2 linked regions of the Homo sapiens genome follow. The protein of the gene in region 1 interacts with the protein of each later gene in a pairwise test. Each region holds a gene or a part of one and is shown on either strand. Other genes may lie near its edges.

Evidence for each region.
Region 2: the proteins of SREK1 (region 1) and DGKD interact in a two-hybrid assay, tested with the Homo sapiens proteins (one study listed by BioGRID).

Annotation. Positions count from the first base shown.
Region 1 is NC_000005.10:66,147,012-66,150,928, forward strand, and holds part of SREK1 (splicing regulatory glutamine/lysine-rich protein 1), read left to right. Parts: intron 1-3,917. UniProt on the Homo sapiens protein: Participates in the regulation of alternative splicing by modulating the activity of other splice facors. Inhibits the splicing activity of SFRS1, SFRS2 and SFRS6. Augments the splicing activity of SFRS3.
Region 2 is NC_000002.12:233,469,348-233,472,769, forward strand, and holds the end of DGKD (diacylglycerol kinase delta), read left to right. Parts: intron 1-23; coding exon 24-113; coding exon of another isoform or gene 114-163; 3' UTR 164-2,751; downstream 2,752-3,422.

The sequences.
Region 1 (3,917 bases):
AGTTTGATTCCAACCTGAGTAACATATTGAGACCCCTATCTCTTAAAAAAAAATGACTTAAATGACTTAAGTTGCTAATATGAAAATTCAGATTTTAAATTTAATTCTTTTGGCATGATGCAGTGGTTGAGTTTCATCTTTATCTTTTAAACGTTAAGAATTTTTTAAGGCTAGGGAATTCTTGTGAACATTCACTGTAAGCATTAAGAATTCTTATTTGTAGTTTGTCATCCTTTTTTTGTGCTGCCAGTTGATAAATATGTAGAATTACTATTAACTTTTTGCACAATAAATCAATCTCACAGCTTGTGAAACTTTCTTACACAAGTAAGAAATCCTTGTTGTTTTTTCAGTAAATTTTTCATTGAGGTTTAATGTACCTACAGAGAAGTGCACAGGTCGTAAGCGCAGGTTGATGAATCTTTACAAAGTAAACATACCTATATAACCAGCACACAGTCAGGATTATCTGCACCCTGTAAGTTCCCCGTGACCCCCTTCAAGTAACTAAAACCTGAAGGGTAAGCCTACCCTGATTTGTAACACTAGACATTTTTCCTGTGTTGATTTTTTTTGCTTGTTGATTTCCGTCACTTCTCTGGTCTTCTAAAGTTCTAAGAAAGAATGGAAAAATCTGTCAACTACTTAAGTTTATTTAGTTAAAAAAAATGTAACCACTAAAGCCACTTTATAGAAAATAGAGAAAAGGAAACAGCACTTGTGATCCCACCACTCTATCAAAGCTTCTCTCCATTTCCCTGTAGTCCTTTTCACATGCGTTAATAAATATTGGACATATTACCTCATTGGTTTTAAAAATAATTGTATAGTGCTATCATTATGTAATATATGTAATATAGCGTAATCAAAGGAATCACACTGTTATTTTACTTTTTTCACTTTGTCATAAGCATTTTCCATATTGCTGTCTTATTTATAGTAATATTTAGAGATTAGTAATTTCTGAGTGTATTGTGTGTTTTTGAAATTCTATTGTTGGATATTTTGATTGCTTTTTTTGGTATTACAAATTAGTGGATTTTAGCTAGAAATTGGGAGGTGTGTCTTTTTGATTGTCAACAATGATTAGAGGGCCTGTTGGCATTTAGTGGGTAAATGTTAGCAACTTATAAGTAGTCTTAAACAGGATGAATTGTGCTAATCCATAGGGCCACTGAAGCCCAGTGAAGAAACCCTGTTATAAATAATGCACCAACTAATATTTTTGTACATGATACTGTATGCTTCGCTCATGTTTTGGCATATCTTTTTTGGTAGGTCCTCTGTCCTCTAAAGGATGTGTATTAATGTACTGATAAAATACTGGACATATTATTACCTCATTGGTTTTAAAAATATTGTATAGTGCTATCATTATGTTTAATAAAAGACAAAATAACCAGTTAGGGCCAAGAAATTTAATTGATGCCCAAAAAGTTGGTTCTTTGGTTTCTGCGTGTACTACCCACTGAAAAGTTTTAATTTTTTTTGAAAAATTGATAAGATTTTGTATTTTAAAAAACCAAAACTTTAAGTCAACGAATGAGGTCAAACTAAAATCTGCTAAATTTGGGTACTGCTATTTTCTTCTTAAAATTTATTTCTAAAATTTTATTTATTTATTTAGTTAAGTAGAGACAGGATTTCACCATGTTGCGCAGGCTGGACTCAAACTCCTGGGCTTAAGCAGTCCGCCTGCTTTGGCATCCTAAAGTGCTGGGGTGACAGATGTGAGCCACTGTGCCTGGCCTGCTAGTTTCTATAGATGCATACATTTAGACCAAATGGAATATGTCATCCCTTTTTATGTGTTTTTTTTTCCCCCAAGGTCTTCTTCTGTTGCCCAGGCTGGTCTTGAACTCTTGGGCACAAGCAAGTACACATTTGTTTGATGAGCTATCTGTTTGTTGGCTTGCTACTCTAATAATTTTAGTTTATAATGGTCAAAATAAAATAGTGTTACCTTGCCTGAAATTTTCAAATATTTGCATTTTTATAAAGTAAATGTAAGTTGGTCTTTATTTTAAGGAAGGTAATTGGAAATGAAGATTAAGAAAATTGGCCGGGTGCAGTGGCCCACGCCTGTAATCCCAGCGCTTTGGGAAGCCGAGGCAGGCGGATCACGAGGTCAGGAGTTCGAGACCTGTCTGGCCAACATAGTGAAATCTTGTTTCTACTAAAAATACAAAAAATTAGCTGGGTGTGGTGGTGTGCACCTGTTATCCCAGCTACTTGGGAGGCGGCAGGAGAATCGCATGAACCCGGGAGGCGGAGGTTGCAGTGAGCCGGGATCCCGCCATTGCACTCCAGCTCGGGTGACAGTGTGAAACTCTGTCTCAAAAAAAAAAGGAAAAGAAAAGAAAAGAAAATTGCTTAAATCAGTGGAGTAGCCGTACCTAATATCCATACTTCCATGATGATGCTGTTCAGAACAGACCAACATTTTTTTAACCAGTTCCCAGGCTTCTGAAATGTTGGTGGCATGTCTTCAGATGTAGTTGCATTACAAACCAGACTCAGAATTCCTATTCCTGTGGATGTTTTAAGTTTGAAATGAAGTAGATTTCAACTAGGGGTATTTGGAAATGTGGTTTTAGTTTTCAGTAGTGCTTACTTAACATTTACATTCCTTCACAAAAGGATCCGTCAGTTTAGGAAATGTTGCTTCAGAGATGACTGTCAGGCTCTTGAAGATTTCAGAGGCAAAAGAGTTATTCCTGTTGGAATTGCTAGGGCTTTAGTAGGTTATTATAATCACAGATTGTTTTTGGTTAAAAAGGACAGAAACAGTGTTACCCAAGGTACATCGAGAAGAGACATTATTATTAAAAAGAAAGATTTCACTGCGTTGAAAAATAAAGATTGTAGTACAGCCAGGCCTCATGGGAACTAGTACTGGGAACCAGAAGGGTATCAGCAATCAAGATGACTATCTGCTTCTTTCTCTGCAGTGGTTATTATCAGTTCAGTTTGTTTCTATCTACTCCATTTCTTTGCATACCTATTATGTACTCATCATCTGGCTTACAGCTTGCTGTAAGTCACCTTCCAGCCCAATAGAGAGAACCTGATTGATTGATCTAGCTCATTTGGTCGAGCCTGACTTCCAAAATTAGAGGTTGCTGGTCAGCCAGGGAAATGGGCCCTTGAGACTGGTGACTAATCATTTATGGCTAGAGAAGCTTATAGGATCTTTTGAGGGTTTCACATGAGGAAACCGTGCTAAGGCCTGTGCCAAAGCAATATAGAATGTCTTGGTAGCACATGTAGGAGGCTGTACCTAATGATTGCGGTATCTTAAGATGGTTTACCAGAAGACTTGGAAATTTGAGCCTTGAAGAAGAGTGGAATTAGCATTCAAAATGGGAGTTAGCGAGGACATCGTAACCAAATGGAACAGCATATATGAAGACCCATATGTTTGTGATGTGTTGCTGGAACCACAGGTATCATTTTTGGGTGCATTTCCATGACGAGGCAAGAACAGAATAGTACCTTTAAGGAAATTTGATATGTGGAGTGACACAATGAAATTTAGTGTTTAGAAAGATCACTGTGGGAGCTTTGGTGGAAGACCATTAATAAGGATTTGAGGTTGGGTGCTGTGTGATTTCTTAAAAGCTGTTAAGTAATCCACATGAGAAATGATGAGGGTCTGAATTAAGGCATTGGTAATGAGAATGATGAAAAAACTAATGTGACAAATATTTACAAGGTACTCTAAGCAGGATATATTGACCAATTGGATGAGGACAGAAAGGTCAAGGATAATTTATCAGTTAGAATAAGTAGAGTTTTGGAAATAACTTCAGATCTTTGTAGTTTGACAATTTTTTTTTTCTTTTTTGAGACACAGTCTCACTCTCTTGCCCAGGCTGGAGTGCAGTGGTGTGATCTCGGCTCACTGCAAACTCTGC
Region 2 (3,422 bases), on another chromosome or scaffold:
TGGCGGTGTCTTCTCTGTTGCAGGACCTGGGCGTGACCAAGGTGGGCCACATGAAGAGGATCCTGTGTGGCATCAAGGAGCTGAGCCGCAGCGCCCCCGCCGTCGAGGCCTAGCCTCTGTCCTCTCAGCCTGTGGCCTCCACATCCCCGCCGCCGAGGCCTAGCCTCCGCCCTCTCAGCCTGTGGCCTCTGCGCCTCCTGCCACTGAGGCCCTGGGCAGATGCTGCAGCCCGCCCCCTTCTCATGGTGCTACTTCCTCTGTCAGCTACAGAAAGCCTCCGTGACACCGTCCACCAGAGCTCTGGGGTCTCGAACATAACAACACAGCTACCTTTGAAACAACACTTTCTCCAGCTCAGAGTCACCTGGGGCACATGTGTCACGGCCACTCAGCTCTCGCCCGCCTGTGCTGTGGGCCAGGGAATCCAGCGGCGTCTGGCCTCCTGGGCACTGCTTGCCTGGCCTCGTGCTTGGATTGTCCCGGGGGCTCCTCTCCGTGTGTCCTTCTGTGGCCGCACCGTGTGGCTCCGCCTCCTGGCCCCCAGCCAGTTCTCAGAAACGTGGCTGGGGCCCAGCACAGCAGCCTGCAAGGGCCCCTGTTTGTTGATGCAGCTTTTGTTGAACAAAAATCGTGCTCTTTCCTGGTTTGAAAGTAGCATGGATGTTTCCAGTCTTGTTGATTGTAATTTGACGTGAAGAGAAAAAAAAATTCCTCCTGCGTGAGCCAAGGCAGCGGGTGCTGTTTCCCAGGCGGGGAGCCCCTCCCTGGGTGTCACAGGGCCTGTGCTCCTCCCTCCTCCATCCTCTCTCCTCCCGCTCCTCCCTCCCCCCACTGTGGGCTGGGGACGCCTGCCCTTCTGTCTCCGGACGCTCTAGGCGAGTTCAGCTTGGGGTGTGAGTGAGACAGCTTGCCAGCTGCATCCCTGCAGACAGAGGATGTGTGTCCACATGAGTGTTTCTGTGTGGGAAATGCTTCCTGGCTCTGGGAAACTTTTTCTGCCCATTCTGTGGTTCCCAGGGAGCGTGGCCCTGGTGGGCCAGGGGTGGTTTGACCTCTTCAGCCCGTCCGGTGGCCTGGAGGCCGGAGGCTCTCCTGAGTGTCTGCCCCTGCAGTGGCTTCTTGTCGCCTGCTGCTGGGCGTGATGTCGCTGGAGGTGCTGGCAGGGACTCTGATTTGGTGGTCCGCGCTGCCCCTGCCCTGCCTCTGTCCTGGCTCTGAACTAGTAGATGATGGTGCCAGAGGGCAGGGAGCTCGCCTGGGGAGAGGGCTGTGCCCCGTAGGGACAGTGCCCAGGTGAAGGATGCCCCTGGTCCTCCAGGGCACTGACTTTGCCCTTTTTTCCCGTTGATAGTCATGGCTCAGAGGTGCTTGTAAATGTCTTGGGAAGAGGTTTCTGTAACCCCTGCCCTGGTGTGAGGAGGAAATGGCTCTGGCCTGGCTGCCTGGCCGTGGCTTCTCTTTGGCTCCCAAAGAGAAGGACAGTGTTGGGAGTATCTGCCGTGGCTTCTCTTTGGCTCCCAAAGAGAAGGACAGTGTTGGGAGTATCTGCCGGCGCTGTCCAGGTCCTTTAGTCAGCGTCACTCCATCTGATGTGCAGAAGCTGGGCTGCACCTGCGGGGGTGGGCATAGACCGGGCTGGGTCTGCAGCAGCCCCTGGTCCTGAGCAGGCGGCAGTGAACAGCACTGGCCCACCTCCCACTCACAGCCCCTCTGTCCCCTCTGCAGTGCACCCAGGTGGGCCCCTCTGCGTGCCTTTGGGTGCTCCCCTCTCGTGGTCGTTCTGGCCCGAGGCCCTTAGAGTATGGAGGCTGAGCCAGGCCTTGGGTTTCCCCAGCACAGCCTCCTGTCGCTGCATGCGACGTGTTGGGATTTTTGGATGAAAGACTCTCCCACGCTCTGTTGGTGGACTTAGCTGCCTCACTGGAAGTGATGTGGGTGGAAGGTGGTTGTATGTTACCTTTTCCACCTCTCATTGTTTTCCCCAGAACATTGTAGATGGGGGTTGGCAGAGGGAGAAATAAGCCAGCCACGGCAGTCGCTTGGTTTCCCAGGTGGAATGGGCTAACACAGGAGATGATGGGAACCTGTCCCGCAGTCCCTGCATGACCATTGGCCCTGCTGGCCTGGCGATGTGGGCATCCTGGGGTTCTTAGGGTCCCAGAACAAGCCCCAGGCAAGCTGGAACTTGGGTGGGGAGGGGACATGAGGAGGATAAACAGCTGACTGTGGCTTCAAGGACATCAGGGCCACCCCAAGTCCTCAGTGTCCTACTCCTGGCAAGGAGTTGGGTTTGGATCAAAAGTGTTTAAAATTAATATGTTGTCAGTGATTAGAACAACACTGTTTACATAAAAACCATTTTTCTAATTCTAACAAGTTAGAATGTGAGGAAGGAATGAACATGAGTGTTTAGGAACCTGCCCTTTGGTGCTGGGCTGGCGTCCCGCACTGGGGTGTCCTCGCTGTCTGGGGGCTGCTCTGCTGCCCCGGCCCAGGTCCCCTTGTGGTGTTGCCAGACGGGCCTCATGGTCTGCTGTGCAGAGAGAGGCAGGAAGGATCCCTGAAGAGTCTTGGAGAAAAGGTTCTGTGCCCTCAGGTGGGGCTTACCCCCTCGTATTTATAATCTTAATTTATATAGTGACCACCGTGGAAACAAACGCCTCTTGTATTGTCATGTACATAGTCCATACCTGAGTGCTGTACATAAGTTGTTCTGTGTATAAATAAAACAAGCCTGTTTTTGATCTTCCATCGCCAGAGTCTTTGTCATCATTCCTTGTGCTTTGACATAAAGTGTTGGTTGCCGGAATCTTTCCAAACTGGATTCAGAATTGTTTTTCACCTGCTCTGAAAATAGGTTGAGTTGTTGGTGGCTAAAAAGCAAAACAGAATGCCATTAGCATGCCATCAGAATGCCGTTAGAATGCCATTAGAATGCTGTTGTATTTTTTAGGGTGTGGGTTCTGTGATCAGTTGGACTAAAAATTCCGCAAGGAGAGAGAGGGTACTGGGCAGTGCTGAGGCTCTCAGGTGTGACCACACAGCCTTGGCCCGGGAGAATGAGGGCCATTTTAACGAATATTTTAACCCTCTTAAATCTTTTCTATAAAACTGCAAACCTGAAGCTCTCCGACTTCTCTGCTTTGTCTTGGTACTTTTATTTCCAAGGGAACTGTCTACGATCAAGGCCACTTGAATTGTCTTCCCCAGTTTCCTGGAGTGAGGGATGGGGACTGCATTCATGGAAGACACCATCAGGCTGGTCGGGTACAGAAGGGCTGCATGTGCTCCGGGAGTGTTGGCTGCCTCCCTAGCAGCTCTTCCTCACTCCTTCCATGGTAACAAACCCCCCCGTTTTTTTTTTTCTGGTGTATATTCTCCTCTCTGGCCATTCAGGACTTCAGGCCTCATGGTTGCAAGAT